7 linked regions of the Homo sapiens genome follow. The protein of the gene in region 4 interacts with the protein of the main gene of each other region in a biochemical or structural test. Each region holds a gene or a part of one and is shown on either strand. Other genes may lie near its edges.

Region 1 (4,058 bases), on a different chromosome or scaffold from region 4:
CACTTGAGCTCAGGAGTTCGAGACCAGCCTGGCTAACATGGTGAAACCCCCATCTCTACAAAAGATAGCCAGGTGTGGTGGTTCATGCCTGTAGTCATAGCTACTTGGGAGGCTAAGATGAGAGGATCGCCTGAGCCCAGGAGGCAGAGGTTGCAGTGAGCCAAAATTGTGCCACTGCCCTCCAGCCTGGGCGACAGAGTGAGACCTTGTCTTAAAATAAAATAGGCTAGGCACGGTGGCTCTCGCCTGTAATCCCAGCACTTTGGGAGACCAAGGCGGGCGGATCACGAAGTCAAGAGATCGACACCATCCTGGCCAACATAGTGAAACCCTGTCTCTACTAAAAATACCAAAATTAGCTGGGCGTGGTGGCACGAGCCTGTAGTCCCAGCTACTCGGGAGGCTGAGGCAGGAGAATCGCTTGAATCCGGGAGGCGGAGGTTGCAGTGAGCTGAGATCGCGCCACTGCACTCCAGCCTGGTAACAGAAGTGAGACTTCGTCTCAAAAATAAATAAATAAATAAATAAAACAAAATAAAACAGAGAGCATTGCTTCAGAGCATGGGGAGCCCCCACCCTACCCTTCAGAAACTAAAATCTGAACCAAAGCTCTGAGACACATCATGTCTTCTTATGGATGCCTGGAAAAGTCACGGGTATGTGGTCACTATGGCCTAGGCAGGAGTGCAAGTTGGATACGGCTGCTCCACAGAGGCTTGGGGGTTGGAGATGATGGAGGCGAGGAGTGTCGCCTGTTTAGGAGGAGGGGTTTGGGGGAGTCCCACAAAGGCTGGAGAATTATAGGTGAAGCTGTCAGAGAATAGATGGATCTATAGGCAACTGACAAGGCCTGGGGGGTCCAGCAGAGGGAACACTGCGTGCATGGGGCGCTGGGGGGTTAGGGCTGGTTTAGAAGGTCCATGGGTTGGGGGGCCACATGGGTGTTGAGTTCTATGGAGGTCTCAGGGTCTATAATGTGTTGAGCAGGTGACTCAGGGTCTCCAAGAACTTCTGGAGCCTTAAAGAACCTAAAAGAGTCGTTGGAATGTGTAACTCCCCAGATTCTATTTGACACACAGTGGGTCTAAAGGATCCAGGGATCATACAGGATCATGATTCTATAGGGACAGCTGCCAGTCTGTGGAACCTCTGGAGACTTAAAAGGGACTCAGAATTCCATAGGGGTGCGTGGTGGGTCCCGAGACCCATGGTCTATAGAGCCCCGGATTCTAGGGGATGCCACTGGTCTATGAGGACCCCACGTCTATAAGAAGCCAGTTCTCCATGGGGGGCTGGCAGGAACCTGGAGGGTCTGTAAGACTTTATACGGAATGAGGCGGGTCTACACGAGACCCAAATCTTACATGGACGTGGCGGGTCTTACGCGGGCCCTAAATCCTACGGGGGACGTGGCAGTGTGCACGGCCAGGGATGCCGGGGAGGACGTGCAGAGTCAGGGTCTGACACCCGCTGGGGACCGCGTCCCTCACCTGCTCCAGGTGGAAAGAGAAGCCATCGCCGCCACCGGAACCGAAGCCTCCGCGCTCGGGCTCCGCACTCTCCCCACCCCTGCCGCCGCGTCGCTCTAGCCGCCCTGAGTCCACCTTTGCGCCCAGCTCCACTCCTCCTGCCAGCCGCTCTAGCCCGGCTCCTGCCGGGCTCCGGCCCCGACGACTCTACTCCTCCCGCCGGCCGCTCTAGCGCTGTACTGCGCCACGCAGGCCAGATAGGGCCGCTCTGGCCTGTCTTGGAGGGCCAGCGTTTCCGTATCTCGACTGCCCCCGTCACTCCCCGGGCCCCGCCCCGCGCCCGGAGGTGCAGATGGGTCCAACTCCTCCCGAGTTCGATCGGAGATCTCCTAGTCACCCCAGCGCTGAGCACTCGGACGGCGGACTGGGGCTCCCCGTCCTATTAGTCTCCCCACTTAGGGGACCCGCTGAATTTCCAATCCTCGTACATCAATCCCCTCCGTCTCCCACCCCCAGCCCCTTCCTTTGGAACCGGAAAAGCAATAGTCTTGAGTTCCAGCACAACTTTCCCTCTGACATGCAGTGTAATCTGCAAAAAGTAATGACTTCTCTGTAGACCTCAGTCTTCCCATCCGTACAATGGGAGAAGGCCTCCAGCTCTCTCCCTACACCTGTCTCTCACGGTATAATTAATGACCTAGAAAAGAGCTTTCCGAAAACTCTTTCAAATGCACTCTGCAACTTTCAGCTTCACAGCGACCCTCGTCGTTGTTGTTATTGTTGTTTTTCATTTTTAGGTGGCCCTAAAGCATGCGGGGGTTGGAGGATGGCGCTTTGCGGAAAGCACGTGCGAGTTCAAATCCCAACTCCACACTTTCTCACGATGTGCGTTCCCTGGGACGAGTCGGTTTGGCTCCCCGGGCCTCGGTTTCCCCACCCGTACAATGGTAGTGATCGTCCGTTCTCCACTGAGCAGGTGGGAGGCCTTGGCCCCGGCCTCGCACCGTTCGTCCCCACCTATGGGGCACTCGTCAAGTGTGAGTTCTCCCCTCTTTGCTCCCTTTGACAGATGGGAAAACTGAGGCCCAAGGAGGGGCGGCCGCTGGTTCCGTGGGGTCCGAAGGGGGCCCCTCCGCTGCCGGCAGCGCCCCAGCCCCTCCCTCCTCCTCCCCACTTCCCCCAACAGCCGAGGGGAGGAGGCCGGGCGGGGCCGGGGACCGAGTACCTGGTGTCCGCGCGGAGGTGACCGGCGGGGCGCCCGAGGTCGGGCTCGGCGATCCCGGGCCCTGGGTCCCGGCTCCCGCTTCCTGGCTCTGGCGGGGCAGGAAGTCGGGGCGTTTTTCCGGAGGCCCCCGCCCCGCCGCCCCTCCCCGCTTCCTGCCCGCGCCCCGCGCCCGCCCGGCACCTCCGCTTCCTTCCCCTTCTCGCCGCTTGCCCGCCCCTCCTTTCCCCGCTGCGCCCGGGTCCCTGCGGGCACCGGCCCCCGCCCCGGCCGCGCCCGAGCTCTCCCCGGCTTTGTCCATCGGTCCGTCCGCCGGGCGCGGGCTCCGCGGGACTCGCATCTCCCGGCTGGGGTCACCTCCCCGGAGGTGCTGGGGGGCAAGCCCTGCTCCCCGTGCGCCCTAGACCGAGCCACGACCTCCCCGGCTTTCCGCGTCTGTGGTTCTCATGGTCTTGCGCCCTTCCTTCGCCTCTGTGGGTGTGCTCCCGCCTGCGTCTGCATCCCCTTCTCTGTCCCTCTGTCTTTCTCTACTGGGGTCTTTCCCTCCTTGGCCTCCACCTCTCCTCTCTGTCCCTCCATCACTTTCTCCCCGAAAGCCCTTCTCTACCCTCTCCAGCTCTCTCTGTATCTTTCTGCATCTCCGTCTCAGTCTCTGTCATTTCCCCAGCTGTTGCTGTGCCTGGGCCTCTTCGTGCCCATTTTCGGTTGCCCCTTCTCCCTTCTGTCTCTTCCTTTCCTTCTCGCTCTCTCTCTGTCCCTTTCTCTCCACGTCCCTGTCTCTCTCCCGGATTCCCAGGGTCTCATCATCTCTTCCTTCCCTTGCTCGTCCCCTTCATGATCCCTGGGTCTCAGCCTCTCTCCTCTCCCTTTCTCAGGAAATCCGTGTCTCTGTGCCTCTCTGTCATTGCCCCGGGATCTCCCTGCTATCCCCAGGTTAGGACCACAGACCCTCCAAAATGCCCCTTCTGTAAGTCAACGCATCGGGAAAAGGCTGCAGTCTGAATTCTGTACTAGCCCCAATCCACAAGATAGTCCCTGTGTTTCCAAGGCTTAAATACGCATAAAGTGGCTCATGCCTGTAATCCCAGCACTTTGGGAGGCCGAAGCATGGTGGATCACTTGAGGTCAGGAGTTCGAGACCAGCCCGGCCAACATGGCGAAACCCTGTCTCTACTAAAACAAAAATTAGCTGGGTGTGGTAGCACATGCCTGTCATCCCAGCTACTCGGGAGCCTGAGGTACAAGAATCGCTTGAGGTGGAGGTTGAAGTGGGCTGAGATTGCGCCACTGCACTCCAGCCTGGGCGACAGAGTCAGACTCTGCCTCAAAAAAAAAAAAAAAAAAAAAAAAAGCGGCCGGGCGTGGTG
Region 2 (3,500 bases), 7.4 Mb from region 4:
GGCCAGGCGCAGTGGCTCGTGCCTGTAATCCCAGCACATTGGGAAGCCGGGGCAGGCGGATCACGAGGTCAGGAGTTTAAGACCAGCCTGGCCAGCATGGTGAAACCCCATCTCTACTAAAAATACAAAAATTAGCCAGGCATGGTGGCACACACCTGTAATCCCAGCTACTCAGGAGGCTGAGGCAGGAGACTCTCTTGAACCCGGGAGGCAGAGGTTGCAGTGAGCCGAGATCATGCCACTGCTCTCCAGCCTTGGCAACAGAGTGAGACTCTGTCTCAAAAAAAAAAATAAATAAATACATAAAAATAAATAAAGTATGGCAGCATCTGAAACTTTAAATACTCTGCTGCAGCTTTTACACCTCTTATTGAAATTATTTCCTCAGTGACTGAAACCATAAAAAGGATACCAGGAAAGTAATATTTTACAAGCTTACTATTGAGCTTAACATTCCTTTGAAATGTCTACCTTCCTTACATGTTATTAAAAATCTCTACTTGTGTTAAAGAGTTGCAGACATTTTTTCCCTCAACCTTATATTTGTGTAAGTACTAGCTATTATTATTTGAAAGTAATGATAATTGGTACTTATACATGCGCGCACACACACACAGAGAGAGAGAGAGAGAGAGAGAGAGAGAGAGAACCCAAACGTGGTACTGTGGCTTGTAATTTAGACTTTCAGAGTTAATTAAAAAGGGCCTCAGGCCCTCTTCATTTAATTTCCACTTCCTCACCTTTTAAAAAGATCTGGAAATGCCCAATGTTTTCATTAGGAAGAAACAAATCAGCAGTAACCATTGGATGTAAACTAGTGAGGAACCTCGACCACACTGCTGCTCACTGTCCAATGGGCCACTGCTCCCTGTGATCCTGCTGCCCTGCTACCATGGCAACCAAATGGGGCTCTGGTCCTGTGCTCTCACCTGACAGGGTGCTCATTTCCTGGGCATGACCTGAAAGGCTATCTGGTTCAGTCACCGGCTAGGAGAGGCCCCAAGTGATCTTTAACTACACAGGGTGAATAATGTACAAGATCTGGTTCTCAAATACAGACACTCCCTTATTCAGAATGAGAGGTGAAAATGCAGTTAAAGAGACTAGGCCGGGTGCGGTGGTTCACGCCTGTAATCATATTACTTTGGGAGGCACTTGAGGTCAGGAGTTTGAGCCCAGCCTGGGCAACGTGGCAAAATCCCGTCTTTACTAAAATATATAAAAATTAGCCGGGCATAGTGGTGCATGCCTGTAATCCCAGCTTCTTGGGAGGCTGAGTCACAAGAATCGCTTGAACCCAGAAGCCAAAGGTTGCAATGAACTGAGATCACATCACTGCACTCCAGCCTTGGCGACAGAGAGAGACTGTCTCGGAAAAAAGGACAGACTCAGTAATAGGGAGAATCAGGTTCAAAGCCTAACTCACACAGCTGTCAGTGACTCTTCCAAGCCTCAGTGTCTCCACCTACAAAATGTATATACTAATGTCCCCCTCTCCCTTAATGAGGTAAAGCATACAAAATGTGTAGCATGGAGCTTGGCTTCTGATATAGAATCAGTAAGTACTAGCTATTATTACTTGTCCCAAGAAGTTCTTTGTTTTCGAGATAGGGTCTCCCTTTGTTGCTCAGGTGGAGAGCAGTGGCATGATCATGGCTTACTGCAGCCTCTTCTTCCCAGGCTCAAACAATTCTCCCTCCTCAGCCTCTCAAATAGCTAGGGCTACAGGCATGCACCACCATGCCAGCTAATATTTTTTTTGTAGAGACAGGGTTTCGCCATGTTGCCCAGGCTGGTCTCCAACTCCTGGGCTCAAGAGATCCACCCGCCTCAGGCTCCCAAAGTGCTGGGATTACAGACGTGAGCCACTGTGCTTGGGCCCTAGAATATTTTTATTGAAGAAACTGTCGTTTAGAGAACCAAAGCTACTTGCTCAGCTGGAGACAAAACGAGAGTCTGAAGCTTGTTCTTGCTTCCCCTTTACCCTCAGAGTTCTGAACTATTCACCATCTCTTTATTAAATAGACTATCAAGAATTTATAAGGGAAACTCACTTTTTAAAGAAGTTCTTTTATCCCCCTAATATTGTGAAAAAATCTATTTTTTTTTTTTTTTTTGCTTCCATGTACTCTGGCTCTTTCCTGGGAATTAAAATTTAGTGAGACAACAAATTAACATGAGAACTTTCTGCCTTGGAGAGCTTATAAAGTATTTCATCATTGAAAAAACGTTGGCATAGAGATAAGTCACTTGGGAAGTTGTTTCTTTATGCTAGGGAAGGCTTACTCAAACAGGCTGACCCATTAGGGAGCGGGGACACTGATTCTCAGTAACCGGGGTAGTTCCCTGAAAAAAAGCAACCACTCTGTTTAAGGTCTTCAAAGTAAAAGTAATTGATTCATTCTAAGGTCAAAAGGACTGGCCAGGGCTGTCCCACTTGGAAGGCTCACTTGTTTAAAAGGGTTCCCCCCCACCCCCCTTTTTTCCTTTGCGGAGAAAATAAATCAATTTTTCATGGGTCGAATGGGACTCTTCTCATCCAAAGTCCACTAAGATGTTTATTTTGTTCTGTTAAAAATACAAGAACTCAAACATATGTACCCCTAGGTTTACTGTTCCCACTCAGACGGACACATCTGCAGTTAAAAGAGGAAAAACATTTAACAGCTTGTCAGGCCTGATAAATAAGGGCCATTTCTCACGAAGTCTGGCAACAACGGGCCAGTTGTTTAATTTTAGGCTGCTCTTCAAGATCCAAGTCCTCATTTGATGTCTGAAGCATCCAGATAGCAATGGGCCAGCATGGTCACACTTCCTTTGGGTATGTACAGAAAATGACTGCAAAGCTGCTCCCAGATCAAACCAATTTTCTAATAAACGTGACAAATGTTTATTTCAGCAAAAAGTTACTAACAAGGCAAATTCCTACAATTTTGCTTCTGGCATAAACTGACAATTTGCATATGATGCTTAAGGAAACCATGTAGTCCTGTACTGCTGTCTCATCAAAAGCAGAGGAGTTATCCTACAAATTCTGGAGTGTGGCCTAACTGCTCCATTTACCCCCATATCAAAGCAGTCCACAGACTCAGGAAGTTTAAGAGACACTGAGGCACTCTCTACTCATTATACCTTCTTTGTCTCTGTCTGTCTCCGGTTGGCTGGCTCTCTTTGGAGAAATTTCTTTGTGGGCTAAAGAAGTTAAAACATCTACGATGGCTCATAATAAAATGAAAGTCAAAAATATAAGATGAATGATCTCTCTTGAAATATTAAGGCATATTTTCTAAATTATTCATCTTAGAACATTACTTGCCTTTCGGATACCTTTGGGATATTTCAGCCTTGGTGCTAAAATTGACTCCTGAACTAAAGCTATTTAAGTCATGAAACTCTCATCAAGTATCTTGATCAAGGCAGTCATTGAGAAACGTAAGTTAAAAGATCAATGTTAAAACTTTCTGCACATCTATGTGTTATCAAGGCATGTTAACTGAAAG
Region 3 (3,500 bases), on a different chromosome or scaffold from region 4:
GGGACATGGTAGAGCTAAGATTCAAACCCAAGTAGCGGAATTCTGCACTTTTAGCAATCACATTATAACAGACTGCTCTGGCATTGGGCAGGGGCGTCTCTTAGTACTATTGGGGGAGGGTGTCTCCAGCACTCAGAGGGCCCCCGGCTGCGGCAGGAGCTGTACCTTGGCAGGGATGGAGGCAGGGTGGTTCTCAAAGAAGAGGCGCTGGAGACAGTGAATCCACAGCCTCTTCTCTTCTTGGTTCTTGGCCTAGGAGTGGGTTGGAGTAGAGTCAGGGGGCCAGGTGTGAGGTCTCGAGGCTGGGGGATCCCTGCCAGCCTGATCCCACTACATGCTCACCTGGAGCAGGTGTCTGTGCTTGGGAATGGTCAGATCAGACACCTTGAACCCTAGAGGGTCTCGGGGACTCTCGCTCACGCTCAGGTTGCAGCACTGGAAGGAAAGAGAGGGGTAGCAAGCTCAGAGTCCTTGGGCTCAGTGATGCCCCTTGTACGGAGACACCCTTGGAGGTGTATCTGGGTCCTCCTCCCTAGGAAGATGCATCCCATAAGGCTGTATGGTGGGTTTCCTCTCCCTTTTTTTTTTTTGAGACAGAGTCTTGCTCTGTCACCCAGGCTGGAGTGCAGTGGCATGATCTTGGCTTATTGCAACCTCCGCCTCCTGGGTTCAAGTAATTCTCCTGCCTCAGCCTCCCCAGTAGCTGGGATTACAGGCACTTGCCACCACGTCCAGCTAATTTTTGTATTTTTAGTAGAGACGGGGTTTCACCACGTTGGCTAGGCTGGTCTCGAACTCCTGACCTCAAGTGATCCGCCCGCCTTGACCTCCCAAAGTGCTCGGATTACAGGAATGAGCCACCACGCCCAGCCTTCTCCTTTTTTTTCTTAAGTGGGGCAGCTCTCATTCTATACACTAGAAAGAAAGCTTCCCTTGGCTTCCATTCTCTAACTCAAGAAAATGTGGCAGGGTCCCCTGGCCCACACTGCCGGGCACACAGATACAGGTATATGGGATATACTTTGTAGGTAGTATTCTAGCCCCACCCCATCCCCAAACTCACGAAGATGTGGCCTTTGTAGGTGTACTCCAGCCCCCTGCGCTTGGCCACCAGCAGCATCCGAGAGAACAGGAAGAGCAGCCGCTCACCCCCTCGTAGCCGGGGGCCACCCCCTCCGCCTCCTCGGAACGCGCCCTCCAACACCAGTTCCCCAAAAGCACTGAGCTCTGGTCCGGTCCAGCCACCCAGCCGCCGCTGCACTTCCTGCCGGGACCCCGCCAGGTGCGCCGGGGCGCAGAGACAAGCATGGGTAGGTGGCACACACATACACACCAAAACAGGGGGTTAGCAACAGGGCCATGCTGTCCCAGCCAACCCTCCAAGGCTACCTCTGAGGCACTGATTTCCCCCCACCCGCCCCAAGGCCCCCTCGCTCACTCCCTCATCCAGCAAGCCCCAGCCCACCCTGGGGCCACCTGGAGGCGCGCTGCATGCTCCTGCTTGCGCTTCATGTCGTTGATGTACCAGGCAACCGCTGTCATGGACACAATAGCTTCCTCCACCATCTCGCGACCCCCAGTGCCTGGGCCCTCCGCCCAGTGCTTCCCTAGTTCCTGTCAGGCAGCCACCAGGCACGCAGGGATGGGGAGAGAAACAGAGAAGGAGAAAGAGAATGAGAATAACAGGAGATGGAGAAATATAAAGATAGGGGCAGAGGCCAGGCGCAGTGGCTCATGTCTGTAATCCCAGCACTTTGGGAGGCTGAGGTGGGCAAATCACCTGAGGCCAGGAGTTCGAGACTAGCCCGGCCAACGTAGTGAAACCCCGTCCCTATTAAAAATACAAAAATTAGCTGGGCATGGTGGTGTGCGCCTGTAATCCTAGCTACTCAGGAGGCTGAGCAAGGAGAATCACTTGAACCCAGGAGGTGGAGGTTGCAGTGAGCCAAGATCGCACCACTGTACTCCAGCCTCATCGACAAGAGTGAAACTCCACCTCAAAGGGAAAAAAAAAAGCTAGGGCTGTGCGCGGTGGCTCACGCCTGTAATCCCAGCACTTTGGGAGGCCTTGCCCAACTCGTGGGGGGTCCATCCTCCAGATGAACCAACAGGTGGTCAAGGGACAGGACCTCCCCCTCCCCAGCCTGGCTCCAGGGGCCCCAGCTGACCTGCAGCAGCAGATGGTACTTGAGAATGCGCTGGACAGGTTTCAGCAGGAAGCTCTGCAGGGGCAGCGAGTGGCGAAGCTGGGCCTGGCGCTCCTGCAGCCACAGGGCTGCTGGCGGAGACAACGACAGCTCCCGGAGCAGGGCCAGGGAGCTGGGGGCACAGCACAGGTCAGTGGGGATTGTCAGTTCCAGTGGGCGGGGTCAAGAGGGGTTAGGGAGGGGCCAGGGTTTGGGAAGGGTCAGGGTCTGACAGGGGGCGGGGCAGTGAGGGAGAGGTCAGTTACTGTCACAGCCTGGCAGGGGTCGGTGCTGGATGGGTCGGGGGTAGAGGGAGGGTGACGGGTGACTGGCACATCAGCTTGTGGGCACAGCCTGAGGCCCAGCAGGGGCTCCTGCCCCTCACCTCGGGTAGTTCATGCAGTACAATGTGTAGATGTCAAAATCCTCGCTCTGCGGGTGACATGGGAGTCAGGGAGACCCCAGGTCCTGGCTTCCCACGACCCCCCTTCCAGCCTAGCCCAAGCCTGCTCTCCCCCCTCTACAAAGGCCCCATCCAGGACCGAGAGCCCCCCACCCCTCCACTCACCCTCTGCACGAAGCACTCGGCAATACCCCCGGCGCTGCTGCTGTTCTCCAAGTCCTCCAGGAGCTCGCTACAGGGGAGAGGGGAGGGTGAGGAACCGCCTGCCTTCACGACCCCTCCATGGGAGGCCTCCAGGAGGCTGAGGCCCCAATGGTCTGCTGGGGCTGGGGGCTTGCTGACTGCCAGCATCTCCTAAGGGGATGTCATGTCCGGAGGAAGGGTCCTCTGAGGGCTACACGGGGCATGGTAACCTGCTTAGACTTTGTCCCTGGACAGCTTCTCATTCCTCAGCTTGAACTTGTGTCAGTGCTGGCATGAGCCTAGGGGTGTTATATCATGACCCAAAGAGCTAGGATGATCTTAAGTTCCTGCTGTAATCCCGAGACCTCGTCAAGGTACTTGGAAATGTCATGATCCTTGGACCCCAGAGTCCTCCTTACCACAGTGACCAACCATCCTGGTTTGTCCGGGACTGAGCAGTTTCCTAGGACGAGGGCTTTCAGTGCTAAAACTGGAAAAGTCCCAGGCAAATCAGGCTTAGGGGGTCACTCGCATGCTCACGCTGTCTCGGCCTTCAGGCCCCATATGATTCTTGGATTCATCGTGAGCCCAGACCTGACACAGCCCCAAGGACTCGTCCTGATGCCGGGACCCTGTCCCAGTGTTTGGGCTTCATCCAGGTCCTCTGACTCCCATCCGCTATGCCCCTCCCTCACTCGGGGTCCTCCCATCCGCTATGCCCCTCCCTC
Region 4 (3,500 bases):
GAAACCATGGAAACAAATCTGTATTTTGAGTTGGTAGGTAGGAAAAGACACCATGCTGGCTGTTAGGCAAGGCCTGAGATGACAGGAAAGCCCTTTTGGCTGTGCCTTTACTACTCAAGAAATGTCTGAAATAATGCATCACGTAAGGTGAGAGAGTACTCCTTTCACATCCGGGTACATCCTCACCCTCCTGTGGTAGAAGGGTAAACTGATGCCTGGGCTCTGAATACAAGTCCCATTCAACACTGCCCAGCACTGCACCCAGCTCTGCTACCCCATTCTTATCACCAGACTCCATGTTAAACATCCTCTGTACAGAGGCCCTTTGAGGCCCAAGAGGTCTCCCTCCAATACTTGGAACACATCTTTCTTCTCTTAGCACCTTCACAGCCCAAATTTCAGTTTCTAAATGATTTCTTCCTTAAAATTGATGGCTCTTCCACCCCCGAACTTTTGCCCCAGGATGCATCACAAATAACCTCCACAAGGCCCACTGTACTTCTGTCATGCAAACCATCATTCTGGCATGTGTAACTAAGATATACTGATGCCCAATTATCACAATCTGTCTGCCCTCACAATAATGGAGCTCATTTACTCCCTGGCAAATCCCACTCTCCCGGCCCCCTCCACCCCACGGTGTTTAGTCATATATCCAGCCTCTATTGGCGCTTGATAAAATGCTTCCAAGATGTTGAGTCTGTCTCATATCAAAAGGGGCCTTTTCATTGTGAGCAGGCCTACTCTTGGTACCATGATCACCTACAATCTTGTATGGTTCCCTAGGCTGTACTATTGCCTACTGTTTTTTTTTTTTTTTGAGACAGAGTTTCGCCCTTGTCGCCCAGGCTTGAGTGCAGTGGCGCAGTCTCAGTTCACTGCAACCTCTGCCTCCCAGGTTCAAGTGATTCTCCTGCCTCAGCCTCCCAAGTAGCTGGGATTACAAGTGCCTGCCACCACGCCCAGCTAATTTTTTGTATTTTTAGTAGAGATTGGGTTTTGCCATGTTGGGCAGGCTGGTCTCAAACTCCTGACCTCTGGTGATCCTCCTGCCTCAGCCTCCCAAAGTGCTGGATTACAGGTGTGAGCTACGACGTCTGGCCTTATACTATTGCATACTGTTAAATGAATATTCCTACACAGTACCCTCTCCCATCTTGGGGACTCTTGAGTTGCTCTGAGGCAGGCAGGTAGCCTGTAATATGCTCTTCAATCAAACACTTTTATTCCAGGGGACTCTCCTCAAGTGAGAACCTCCCCCTATCTTGCGAGGGTCAGTGATGTCCAAGGTTTGCAGCACAAGAAAAATACTCACAGACCATGCCTCAAGGTTTTAAGTCAAGGTCTCTAAATTTCTTATGGGCAAGATTCTGGTTGTTCCAAGATGCCCAGGCAGAAATAATGTTTCCAAGAGAACCAAAGAGCTGCTTCCAAAACATACATACTGCCACAGATGGAAAAGACCCTTCCAGTTCATGCTTACAGACATGCAGCAATTAACAGCCACTCTCTGGAGAAAATGTTAGGATACAACCAGTAATATACATTCACTACTAGGCTTTTGAGAAATAAGCTATGAAAATGCCAACCTGACATTGCTTCCCCAAGCCAATGGATCTTTCTATGTATGGTGCATCAATCTAAGTTAGGTAAGAGGGCTATAACTTGACACCAATCCTGAAGATGTCATCACATTTCTACCTAGTTTGTCACAACTGGGCCCTGTGTCCATATAAAACCAGTTTTCCTATCAGGACCACAAAAACACCTATGTCCAAGCATCCATGCTTGGCTGAGGCTGAATTAACACCCTCTGTATTGGTTTGCCACCTTCAGGGTACATCCCAAAATTCTGTTAGGCTGGTATTTGTTGTATTTTTTCCATCTATACTTGGGCCAGAAAGTATCTTAGAGTTCCTATTAGCATAAGAGCAATCATCGTGGCTCACTCTGTATTTGAATAAAAAAGAGCACAAACTATAGGACGGGCGCAGTGGCTCACGCCTGTAATCCCAGCACTTTGGGAGGCAGGCAGATCACGAGGTCAGGAGATCCAGACCATCCTGGCTAACACGGTGAAACCCTGTCTCTACTAAAAATACAAAAAACTAGCCAGGCGTGGTGGCGGGCGCCTGTAGTCCCGGCTACTCCGGAGGATGAGGCAGGAGAATGGCGTGAACCCAGGAGGCAGAGGTTGCAGTTAGCAGAGATCACGCCACTGCACTCCAGCCTGGGCGACAGAGCGAGACTCTGTCTCAAAAAAAAAAAAAAAAAAAAGGACTACAAACTATGAAAGAGGGTTTTGAACATGGCAGTATTCATCTCTTAGAAAGCGCTTTGGTGCTGCCAAACATTTTCCGTTACTTCACAGAACCTTGATGTCACCTATAAAAACCGTTTTACAAATGAGGAAGGCTCAAAGGTCAGGAGCTTACTGATGGTCAAACAACTATCAGGAAGCCCTACAATGAGGGACCCTGGAGTTCTGAGCAGCTGATCTAACCCACATTCCTCACACAGTGCCACAAAAGGAGGCTAGGTGGCCCTAGGACAGAAAGAAATAAGTAATGTGGACAAGTAGAAGTGGCCAGGCACGGTGGCTCATGCATGTAATCCCAGCACTTTGGGAGGCCAAGGCGGGCGGATCACCTGACGTCAAAAGTTCGAGACCAGCCTGGCCAACATGGCGAAACCTCGTCTCTACTAAAAATACAAAGATTAGCTGGGCTTGGTGGCAGGCACCTGTAATCCCAGCTCCTCGGGAGGCTGAGATAGGAGAATTGCTTGAACTCAGGAGGCGGAGGTTGTTGTAAACCAAGATCATGCCATTGCACTCCAACCTGGGTGATAGAGGGAGACTCTGTCTCTAGACAAACAAACAAAAACAAAGTAAGAAAGGAGAAAGGGGATGAATGGAAGCTAATATATCAAGTGTTAGCAGCATATGAGACATATAACTGAATGCTCAAGAAAAATGAGAATGTTGGAGAAGAGCACCTCATTCTAGTTTTAGGGGTTTTTTCCTTTCAGCTGACCCACTTCAAAAGATGTATAGGAGAGCTGGGCACGCTGGCTTGCGCCTGTAAGCCCAGCCACTTGGGGCTGAGATGGAAGAACTTGAGCCCAGTTGTTTGAAACCAGCTGGACCAACACAAGACCTCATCTCTAAAAACATAAATTACCCAGGTGTGGTGGCACATACCTACAGTGCCAGCTATTTGGGAGGCTGAGGTGGAAGGATCACTTGAGCCCAAGAGTTCAAGGCTGCATGATCATGTCACAGCACTGCAGGCCTGGGAGACAAAGTACAATCCCTGTCTCTTTATTTAAGAGAAAAAAAAAAAAGTATGAGAGGCCAAGCAAAGCATTACTTAGACAACAAAAGGAAGCAGAAGATTAAAAAAAAAAACAAAAACAAACCAAAACCAAAATTAAAACCCAAAAAAACCCTCCAATTTCACAAGAGCTTTGTTCCAGTCTTGCCAGAGGGCTTTTAGGAC
Region 5 (3,500 bases), on a different chromosome or scaffold from region 4:
AGAATTTCCACTGTGGTCTTTTTATAGTTTCTGTTTCTCTACAGAGGTTTCCTATCATTTCATTCATTGTGAGCATATTTCATTTATATTCTTAAATATGGTTATACAACTGCTTTAAAATCCTTGTCTATTAATGCTTACAACTGAGTTATCTTGAGACTGGTCTCCATTGATTCCTTTTTCTTGTTTGTATGGGTCACATTTTCCTGTTTTTTCCTAATGTCAAATACCTTTGCACTGTATCCTGAACATTGTGAATGTATGGTGTAGGGACTCTGAATTCCTTCTATTCTTCTGAGAAGTATTGCTTTTTGTGTTTGTTTTAGCAGGCAGTTAACTTGGCTGAACTCTCAAACTGCACATACTGTCCCATCCGCTGGATGGGACCTGAAATCTTAGTTCAGATATGTTAGCCCTACCTGTGCTGCTTGGAGTCTGTCCCATACATGTAGGGTTCAGAAATTTGAGGACTCTACACACAGAATTTGGGGCTACCCATTTGTGGCTCCTTCTCCTCTCCAGGATTTTCTCCTCATTTATCAGCTATATGGTCACCAGAACTCTGCCCTCTGGTTTTTTATGCCAGTACAACTGTGGGCTTATATTCTAGTTTTAACCACCCCACATGACCCTGATTAGGGGCTTCCCTTATGCAAAAAGCTACAAAAAATGACAAACTTATCCAGTGCTAGTCCCTTCTTCCAAGTATTGTCTCCAATAGCCATGTCTTTTGATCACTCTCCAGTGTTTTAATAGTTGCTTTTTATAATTTTGTCATGTGAGAGGTCTGTGGTCCAATGAGATCTCAGCCAATACTGGATGCAAAGTTTTTGTTAGTTCCTTTTTACAGAGCAAAGACATCTTTCTCAGAATTCCCCAGCAGATTTCTCCTTTAGCTTACTGGCTAGAATTGTTTTCATCTGCTCTTTGTTAATCCTCTTTGTTCTGGGGCCTGCATGCCTGGAAGGATTTGGCTGCAACACACTGGCTGGTATACATTAATGAGTTGGGTTACAGCTTATTCATTAAGCTTGTGAGCTTAGTTAATGTGTATCCACCTCAGACATAGATTCAATCTCCATGTGCTGACCATATCACTGTCCAAGGCCCCAGATGTCCAGATGTGTGGAACTTTGGGGCTGCCTCCTCCTGGTGGAGTTCAACAGGCCCAGGCAGAGGTTGCTTGAACCACCTGTGGTTGCCCCAGCTAAAAGGGGAGAAGCAGCCACATTCCACAATCTGGACTGGCTGGGAAGCTGAGCAGGGAGTTCTAGAGTGGCAGCCCAAACTCAGGCAGGCAAGCACTGAAGGATGGTTCCTCATCCTCCCAGCAGGAGGTTGGAGGCTATGAGATACCCTGTCTCTCAGGGGCTGGAAGAGCAAAGAGCAGTATCTCTTTCAGACATCCTGCTGTCAGAAGTTACACCACAGCACAGTCATACATTGGGTTTAATTGTTGCTCCTGCCTGGCCCCTCTTAAAAAAAAAAAAAAAAAAAAAAAAAACCAAATAACCTGTAAAGTCATTTTTTGCCATATAAGGTAACATTCACAGGTTCCAGGGATTAAGGAGTGTCTACCTTTCAGAAGATCATTGTTCGGCCTACTACACCTGCTTCCAAATAACCCAAAGTAATTGGCAAACATGCACTAATCTCATTAAGCTTACTGGGATTTCATCTGTACTCAAATTCCTACTACGTGTACAATCAACAAAAATTCTCCAACCTTGTATATCTTCTCACCTCGCAGCCTGCCTATAATCAGAAAATCAATTCTATATTCATATTATATATTAATTAAAGGCATCACTAATTATTGCTAATGGTTCCTGGATGAGAAAAGAAGCAGTAAAGATTAAAGTTCCCAACAGCTATGGGAGAGAATTCAGGACAGTGATTAAGAATGTGTATTCTAGGCCAGGTGCGATGGCTCACGCCTGTAATCCCAGCACTTTGGGAGGCCGAAGCGGGTGGATCACTTGAGGTCAGGAGTTCAAGACCTGCCTGGCCAACATGGTGAAGCCTCATCTCTACTAAAAATACAAAATTAGCCGGGCGTAGTGACACGTGCCTGTAATCCCAGTTACTAGAAGGCTGAGGCAGGAGAACTGCTTGAGCCCAGGAGGTAGAGGTTGCAGTGAGCCAAGATTGTGCCACTGCACTCCTGTCTGGGCAACAGAATGAGACTTTGTCTCACAAAAAAAAAAAAAGAAAGAAAGAAAGAATGTATACTCTGAAGCCAGCTTGCCTAGATTCAAATCTCAGCCTCATGAACTGGCAGCTGTGTGATTTTAGGCAGCTTAATCTCTGTGTACCTTGGTTTCCTCCTATGGCAAACAAGATTAATAATACTACCTACCTCACAAGGTTGTTCTAAGAATTAAAGGAGTTGATAATTACAACGCACCTAGAACAGTGCTTGGCTCACTCAGAAAGGTTAACTAGTATTACCATCAATGCCCAAACATGGTAAATATACAGAAATTAAAGGACAAGGTGAAAAAATCTCAAAACCGGCCAGGCGCGGTGGCTCACGCCTGTAATCCCAGCACTTTGGGAGGCCGAGGTGGGCGGATCACGAGGTCAGGAGTTCGAGACCATCCTGGTTAACACGGTTAACCCCGTCTCCACTAAAAATACAAAAAATTAGCCGGGCGTTGCGGTGGGCACCTGTAGTCCCAACTACTCGGGAGGCTGAGGCAGGAGAATGGCATGAACCCGAGAGGCGGAGCTTGCAGTGAGCCGAGATCACGCCTCTGCACTCCAGCCTGGGCGACAGAGCAAGACTCCGTCTCAAAAAAAGAAAAAAAAGAAAAGAAAAATCTCAAAACCAACACTGAAGGTACTACAATGACATAATCAATCAATAATTAACAATCTATTTGATGGAAACGATTAGACGATTTACACTGAAGTCTGTGAGAACTTTTAGAGGACTCTCCTAATTAAAAAGAACTCCTTCATCAACTTGGACCACCAATTTACAGGCTCCCTTTGAATGGACTGACCTACATCCTAGAGATGGACACTTCTAGAAGCCACATGTCCTGCTCTGCCACCACTACCTGTGTGTTGCCAAGAGTAATGAGAAACAGGTATTACTGAAAGGCTTTCCACAATCTGTAGGACAACTGTTCTGTTCTACAAAGGATATAGGACTCAGGTCCAGGTATTGAGTGTGGCCTAGGGCAGGTTCCAAGTTTAATTCCTACGGAATTTTATCTGCCTTCACAAAGTCTCCACCCAGATACTTGCCCTGTCCTCTCAGCCTCCTCCATCTCTCTTCTATGCCCCAGTAGCTATCCCTACCATCTCAATGCTCACGGCTTAAGATATTTTCAAATGAGACCAAGTTGGTTAATTCACAAGCATCCCAAAGTCAATTGATTCGTAGCACAGCCAAAGTATCATACAATTACAATAGACTAATTTCTACTATTTATACTTATCTATGGGAAGAGATATCTAAGCTACAAACTCTTTTACCCAACTCACAAGTG
Region 6 (3,500 bases), on a different chromosome or scaffold from region 4:
GTTTAATCTTTTTGGTTATTGAAAAAAATAGAACAGTCCACTGTCCAGCAGAGGCTGCTTCAACTCTATTGCTCGCAGGGCTCATTCTGCATGGATCTGTGTTTCAGGATGCTGCAAGGACAACTCTGCGGGCAGGAAGGCCCCTTGACCCAACGCTGTAGCATAGGTCCTGCTCTGTGGATGGGGAAAGCCAGGGGGCACATACGTCCCCATGCCGCCCCCTCCAAAGACTCCTCGCTGGTGCTGAGGCAGGGAGTGGTAATCTTCCAGGTTATCATACTGGGACACAACAGTCACACTGCTCTGGCGCTTGCCGTGTGGTTGGTACTGGTACAGCACACTGGGGTCCCTCTCCACGTTCTGGGTATGATGGAGTTTGAGGCTATGACTCCTCTCTGGTTTAGGGGGTGGGACGATTGACTGAGTGAGGTGTTCTTCCTCCTTGTAGCAGTCTCTGGAGTGTTTCTCTGGGGCAGAAGGCTGCCTAACCCAGGGTCGCTCCATCTCTTTGGAGAGCCTTACCTCTTTGTGGTTCAGTCTTAAAGATTCTTGCCCGGATGCAGCATATTTTACTCCAGAGTTGTGGTAGCTGACTGGCTCAGAAGTGTCTGGAATCCCTTTGGACCCATAATCTAACTGGCCAGCTCCCTGGGGATAAGGGGGCCCATTCTTTGACTCACAGAACTGCCTATGGCTTGCTTCTTGGTGTGCCCTGTGCTCAGGAAGACTGCAGCCCATGTCAGGAAGCTTCCTGCTCCTCAGGCTGCTCTGCTTCTGAGGCAGGGATGGCTTCTCCGGCTGCGTGCTACCATGGCCTCCGTGATGGTGGGCTCTGTCCATCTCTGCCTCGGGATGCCTCCTATAGAAGCGGTCCTCTCCCTCGGGACTGATGGCCTTGGCTGCATGGCGGCTCTCCTTTCCTTCTGCCACTGAGAGAAGTCCAGTTTTCCCAGGATCTGATTTACTACGCAGATGGATGACATAGATCCCACCCAAGTCGTCCTGCACCGCCGGGGTCATGTTATCATATTGGGACATGACAGGCCCTTTCACCTTCTGCCGAGCACGGCTCTCTCTCCGGATGGACTGCATGCGGTATTTTTCCATGTCCTCAAGATCCCATGAGGTGTAGGTGTGCTTCACATCAGCAGCCGGAGGCATGCTGACTACATTATGGTCGTTGGGAGAGAAATAGCCAGTCACGTTGGCCCGGGGACGTGGAGCCAAACCAGCATAACTGTACAAGCTCTTTCCTTGCAGCCTAGGATTGTAGAAAGCAAAGTCTCGATTGGGAAGGCGGTGAAGGGGTCTCAACTGGACTGTGCCATAGGCATCCACATCACACAGGGCCCCATCTGGACTGTAATAGGAACTAGAAGAACTGGAATATGGGCTATACCTGTAGTGGACCCGGCCATTCTCAAAGTAAGGCTGAAGCTGAGTGACATGATAATCTGAGCGGGCCTGGGAGGACTGATATGGCTTATATTGGTACAGAGGTCTTGGGCAGTAGGCTGGCTCATCATCTGGGGGAACTTCTGTCCGTGAAATGGGAACAGAGCGAATCATGGAAGACGGCGGAGCATGGAGAGACTGCACTCTCCGGATGGTAGGGTACGGTGGAATGTCTTCGGGGTAACAGGTATTCCTGACAGAGGAGCTCAAAGAAGACACATACTCGACCCGGCTGCATGGCTTGGAGTGGTGTCCAGATGCGTTTCTTCCTGGGGCCACATATGTGTTATAACGAAGACCCATGGAGGCTGGTGGCTCTGACCTGGCACCATACACTTGGTGCTGCTCCAATTTATTGTGATGGGGAGGTACACTCTGGGGACGGTACTGGCAGTTTGGAGTCATATTGAAATGCAAACAGTTATCTGGACCAAAGGGTTCAGTGGTGACATCGGGCCTAGCAAAGGAGGAGTAAACTGTTTTCTGAGAAGCATGCTTAGGTTGTGGGACAGGAAGTGGTAAAGGCAATGCATCGTCCACAGAGGTGGATGAAGCAGTGACAAAGGAATGATAATTTGAACTGCTGGTGGCATCTGCACTGCTGGAGTGTATGGCAGCAATCATCTTACTCTCCATCATCCTGGTGGGGGGCAGTGGTGCAGGAAAGCCACAGGGATGCGCAGGGACAGACTCGGCGCGCAGGTGCAGCAGCGGGACCCGGGCACCGTCCCGCACTTTCTCAGGCAGGCCTGGCTGGACAGCTGTAGCCATGGGACACTGAGCAGCAGCAGCACCACTGTCACTGATGAAGGCAGACGCAGGGTCATCCATGGCTCGAGGTTCAGGTGGCCTCTCTGGAACTGGAACTACTCCTTGAACCTATTGAAAGATGATAATACTATGGGTCTATTTTTTGTTCCCTCTATGAATCAAGTACTATTAAATTTGTAACTCACAAATTAAGGCTGGTTGGGTAGCAGCTTGAACTTTCCCAAGCCATGTGGTTGCAATGAATCTGTACCCATTTCTAGGAAAAGAAGGCTTGTGCTGCTATTTTGTACAACACCCAGTATTATCTTTGGAGAACCATTCAAAGTTTTCTAATTTATGAGAGGTTTTAAATGCGAGATGAGGTTGCCTATGGCATAATTTTAATATACAAACCAAAAGAGAGGTTTAGTCAAGTAATGCTGTAGAGCTTAAAAATACATACCCGGTCTATTAGTCTAGCTCAGTCTCAACACAAAGGACATCTTGTTAAATTAAGAGTTAATTCTATCATCTGGGGAGACTTTTGAAATTCACAGTTGTACACAGTTAGCAGTTTTAGGGCTTCAAACATAGGGAAAGGCAATATTCAAATCAGAAGCTACTGCCTCTCTCCTACCTTTGATTCCACCTTAGTCTGGCCAAAGATAATCCTCATACTGAAAACATGCTATCCTTGAGAAGCAGTAAACACAGCATCCTCCACTAAGGTCTAAAATCTTAAGTCCTATTAATAGTTCAAGGTGACCATATAGAAGAAAAACAACCTGTGGCACTTTCTTAAAATATGAGGAAATTCAGGAAGAAACCTTAGCATTCTGCATACTACATTCTCTCATTGAAACAGGCACCTGACTATGGGACAAACTGCTGGTGAATGCTAGGAAAGTAACAAAAAATCCCAAGGCACTATAATCTCTTATACTTCCAAAAAGTCTGCAAGGCAGACAGTCTTACGAATGTTTTGAGAATGAAGTATTTTCATTGTGTAACTGTGAATAATTGGCAGAGGGTAGGTAAATGACTTGCCCAAAGTCACAATGAGTCAGTGATGGAGTTGGAAAAAAATAAGAAAAAGCAACCCACAACCGTAAAGCCCACTTTGTCTCATTTGATCCTGATCTCTTTGTGTTACTGGAATAAACTACCGAGACACTTTAGGAAGAAAAGGGAGCAGGTACAGTTAAGCTATAGTCATCTAGGAGCTACTCCTTTCCTGGGGAAAAGCCAGCATCAAGGTAATGGCAGACTCCAACCTCAAATGGGAACTATCTCAT
Region 7 (3,500 bases), on a different chromosome or scaffold from region 4:
AGCATATTAAAAGGTCCCCAAGCCCAGCCTTTCAGATTCGGGAAAGCCTTTCTGTAGGAAGTTCCATCTCAGGTGAGACCTGAAGTATGAAGTGCATTTAAGACAGAGGGACAGAGTGTGCACAGACCCTTCCCTCCGCAAAAAAAAGCACTGCCAGTTGGGAGAACCAACTGGAACAAAGTGTGTGTGGGGAAAGAATGGGTAAGATGCATTAGCAAGGAACCAGGGACTGGATCAAACCACTTTAAGAGTTTGGATTCCTTCGCTGGGCGCGGTGGCTCACGCCTGTAATTCCAACACTTTGGGAGGCCGAGGCGGATGCATCACGAGGTCAGGAGATCAAGACCATCCTGGCTAACATGGTGAAACCCCGTCTCCACTGAAAGTACAACAAATTAGCTGGGTGTGGAGGTGGGCACCTGTAGTCCCAGCTACTCAGGAGGCTGAGACAGGAGAATGGAGTGAACCCGGGAGGTGGAGCTTGCAGTGAGCCGAGACACGCCACTGCACTCCAGCCTGTGCGACAGAGCGAGACTCCATCTTAAAAAAAAAAAAAAAAAAAAAAAAGAGTTTGGATTCCTTCCTGAAGGCTATGGGGAACCACAGAATGTGGCCAAAAAAATGGCACCTTAAAGAACCTAAAGTTTTAACAGCTTAAGTTAAACAAACTGTTATGGCTTACAGTCTTTAGCAACTTTCCAGCTACGACAGTTTATGCTGCACTTCAGTTTACTTAGATACTCCAATATAACTGTGCAAGCACTGAACCTGCAGCCAAATGAACATTCTCTCAAGACAATCACAAAGAGGAGAATCTGAAATGAACAGAGCAATTTTCTTCTGAATCTCATTTATGTCTGTAGGAACCTAGGCTTGCCATGACCTCATTATGTTTTTGTAAGCCTATTGCATAAGAAATGCCACTGGAAGTCAGACCACCACGCATTATTCTGACTGACACCAGGGAGCAATGAATGGGAGAGTGCAATTGTCCCCTGTGATGATAACCTCAAAAGGTCACAGACCTTTTCCAAACATCCATAGCTTCCTTCTGATATCCCAGAAAGCCAAACCCTCTATGGAAACAAAATGTGACTAGACGTAGTATGCAAAAACTACATTTTAAAAAGAAAAATCTCAATGACTGTAGGCAATTGCCTCCAGATAATGGCATGTTCCTAAAGATGCCATGTTCTAGAATTCAGCAGGAACAAGCAAGGTATCCACGGGAAAGAAAAACAAACCTTTCGCATCCTCTACTTTTCTAGGCGATTGCTTACATAAACAAAATTATAAGATGCTTATGAATATCTAAAGCATGTTTACACACATCCTCTGAAATACCTAAAGGAAGCATCTGTACACAATCAATTACTCTGTAATATGCACATATAATTTTGTTTCAATCCATGAAGAAACTTAGGTTGAACAGAGCCTCAGACAGGAGTGCTGATGAAGGGTTGAGGAAGTCATGGGTCCTCATCTAACAGAGTCCTTCTCTATCAATTCCTGACCCCAGGGTCTGTCAGGTCTTAAGGTTACCAATCTTGAAATGCAACTTGGTAGCACTGGTCCTACTTAAAGTGACCTCTGCATGCAATTGGCAAGTCATCCCTTGTCTGTGACTCAACTGTTCTCTGTAAAGTGGGTCTAATATTTATCCCTTCACAGAAATCTGAAGGAAAAACAGAACAAAACACCAGCCTGCTCTCAAACCTCAAGAAATAAAGATATTGGCTCTATTTTGAAATGAACTAAAATGTATTATCCATTCAACACCTTGGTTATATTTTTTAATGGCATATTTTCAGTTATTTGAAGGATGCTAAAGAAAGCAACACTCAACTCTGAATAATGTAGAACTGATTATTTTATTTTATGAGATGGAGTCTTGCTCTGTCACCCATGCTGGAGTGCAGTGCTGTAATCATAGCTCACTGCAGCCTCCAACTCCTGGGCTCAAGTGATCCTCCCACTTCAGCATCCCAAGTAGCTGGGACTACAGGTGCAAGCCATCATGCCTGGCTAATTTATTATTATTATTATTATTTAGAAATGGGGTCTTGCTATGTTGCCCAGGCTGGTCTCAAACTCCTGGCCTCAAGCAATCCTCCCACTCACACCTCAGCCTCCCAAAGTGCTGGGATCATAGGCACGAGCCACTGTGCCCAGCCACGACTGTTATTTTTAAACCCAGAATGCTGCTGATCATTAAAATAGCTACAAAAAGTGAAAATCAGCTGGCATGGAAGTGGTTAATTTTGGGACACCTGGTAACTTTCCACTTGTTAGAAACCTAATAAGTTTCTTGGTGTAAGTATACTCTTCTTAGCTTTGATGTCTAGATAATGCAGTTTTACTAGTTCCTCAATTGGACTGAATTACACGGTAAACAAAGACTGTTATAAATCTAAAAACATCTCAAACACTTGGTTTAGAGGAAATAACTTTAAGTGCTTGGTCACAAATACATTCAACTTAGTTCTAAGAGGTGGGTAAAAAAAATTAGCTGAGTCACTAAATTTAATGATCTGAAGGCCACAAAGAAAGAGAAAGTAGGAGACCGGGCATATCCAGACTTCACAATGTCTTTAGAGTTTAAATGTGATGGGAACCAGTGTTCTTAGCAGGCAACTAAGATACACAACAGAATCTGAATGTCCATTCTAATAATTTTCCAGTGCTAATCCTTTTTAAATGGAAGAGTTAAAACAGAGGGGAAAGAAGGATCCTTTAAAAATGGTAATTACTTTTATCTTTGAGCTGTACAGAGATATTTCATTAGAAAAACAGAAACACAGGACTTCAAAGTTTCCCATTTTATGCCAAGAGTCAACTACTTCAGAGAGGAAAATACTTCAGAAGTATTTTGGTTTCTCAGTCACAAATACATGCTGTAATAAAACATAATGCAAATATCTACGTGCCTTCTTCAGACTGTCACCAAGCATCTAGAGTTGTTTGTGATTTGTTTAACCAAGACACAAGGTCCCCACCAGAGTGCCGCAACTGGAAGGTAGAAGGAGGGTGTTTTCTTTTTTAACACCTCTATGAAACACTCAGGGCAAGAAGTGGTAACATTCCCAAGATAGCACACATTTTTGTAGGACCTAGAAATGCCACCGTGATCCCAGATTTACTATGACTGGGAAAGTTCATACTGTCAACAGCTCTATCAGCATACGCCTGGAAGTGTGTGTATCACTCTTCCAACACAGCGTGTGTATCACTCTTCCAACACAGCAACCTCATCCCTCTCTCCCCGAAGTAGGAAATGTTTGTGTGCTCTGTAATCTAGAATGCCCCCTAAGACAAAAATCTTCCACCATTATCCATAATAAAAATGACCATCTCCACCTGAGAATATTCAACAACTTCTGAAAACACACTGAGTTTCAAATAATCACATACAGAACACCACCAACTAGTAACACTGTAAGGAAATAATTTCATACAGAACTACAAGCAAAGGAAGTAAAATACTTGTTATCACAATTTTC

The links.
Region 1: of the proteins of RHOA (region 4) and ARHGEF1, one has a biochemical effect on the other in vitro, tested with the Homo sapiens proteins (one study listed by BioGRID).
Region 2: the proteins of RHOA (region 4) and ARHGEF3 form a complex in vitro, tested with the Homo sapiens proteins (one study listed by BioGRID).
Region 3: the proteins of RHOA (region 4) and PLEKHG2 form a complex in vitro, tested with the Homo sapiens proteins (one study listed by BioGRID).
Region 5: the proteins of RHOA (region 4) and DIAPH3 form a complex in vitro, tested with the Homo sapiens proteins (one study listed by BioGRID).
Region 6: of the proteins of RHOA (region 4) and ARHGAP32, one has a biochemical effect on the other in vitro, tested with the Homo sapiens proteins (3 studies listed by BioGRID).
Region 7: the proteins of RHOA (region 4) and ARHGAP35 form a complex in vitro, tested with the Homo sapiens proteins (3 studies listed by BioGRID).

Annotation. Positions count from the first base shown.
Region 1 is NC_000019.10:41,881,926-41,885,983, reverse strand, and holds the start of ARHGEF1 (rho guanine nucleotide exchange factor 1), read right to left. Parts: upstream 2,801-4,058; 5' UTR 2,695-2,800; exon of another isoform or gene 1,517-2,694; coding exon of another isoform or gene 1,491-1,516; intron 1-1,490. UniProt on the Homo sapiens protein: Seems to play a role in the regulation of RhoA GTPase by guanine nucleotide-binding alpha-12 (GNA12) and alpha-13 (GNA13) subunits. Acts as a GTPase-activating protein (GAP) for GNA12 and GNA13, and as guanine nucleotide exchange factor (GEF) for RhoA GTPase.
Region 2 is NC_000003.12:56,746,450-56,749,949, forward strand, and holds part of ARHGEF3 (rho guanine nucleotide exchange factor 3), read right to left. Parts: intron 1-3,500. UniProt on the Homo sapiens protein: Acts as a guanine nucleotide exchange factor (GEF) for RhoA and RhoB GTPases.
Region 3 is NC_000019.10:39,415,669-39,419,168, reverse strand, and holds part of PLEKHG2 (pleckstrin homology domain-containing family G member 2), read right to left. Parts: intron 2,822-3,500; coding exon 2,755-2,821; intron 2,619-2,754; coding exon 2,572-2,618; intron 2,320-2,571; coding exon 2,169-2,319; intron 1,615-2,168; coding exon 1,477-1,614; intron 1,265-1,476; coding exon 1,064-1,264; intron 436-1,063; coding exon 343-435; intron 253-342; coding exon 166-252; intron 1-165. UniProt on the Homo sapiens protein: May be a transforming oncogene with exchange activity for CDC42. May be a guanine-nucleotide exchange factor (GEF) for RAC1 and CDC42. Activated by the binding to subunits beta and gamma of the heterotrimeric guanine nucleotide-binding protein (G protein).
Region 4 is NC_000003.12:49,370,477-49,373,976, forward strand, and holds part of RHOA (transforming protein RhoA isoform 1 precursor), read right to left. Parts: intron 1-3,500. UniProt on the Homo sapiens protein: Small GTPase which cycles between an active GTP-bound and an inactive GDP-bound state.
Region 5 is NC_000013.11:60,157,429-60,160,928, forward strand, and holds part of DIAPH3 (protein diaphanous homolog 3), read right to left. Parts: intron 1-3,500. UniProt on the Homo sapiens protein: Actin nucleation and elongation factor required for the assembly of F-actin structures, such as actin cables and stress fibers. Required for cytokinesis, stress fiber formation and transcriptional activation of the serum response factor.
Region 6 is NC_000011.10:128,968,826-128,972,325, forward strand, and holds part of ARHGAP32 (rho GTPase-activating protein 32), read right to left. Parts: intron 2,335-3,500; coding exon 82-2,334; 3' UTR 1-81. UniProt on the Homo sapiens protein: GTPase-activating protein (GAP) promoting GTP hydrolysis on RHOA, CDC42 and RAC1 small GTPases. May be involved in the differentiation of neuronal cells during the formation of neurite extensions.
Region 7 is NC_000019.10:46,912,997-46,916,496, reverse strand, and holds part of ARHGAP35 (rho GTPase-activating protein 35), read right to left. Parts: intron 1-3,500.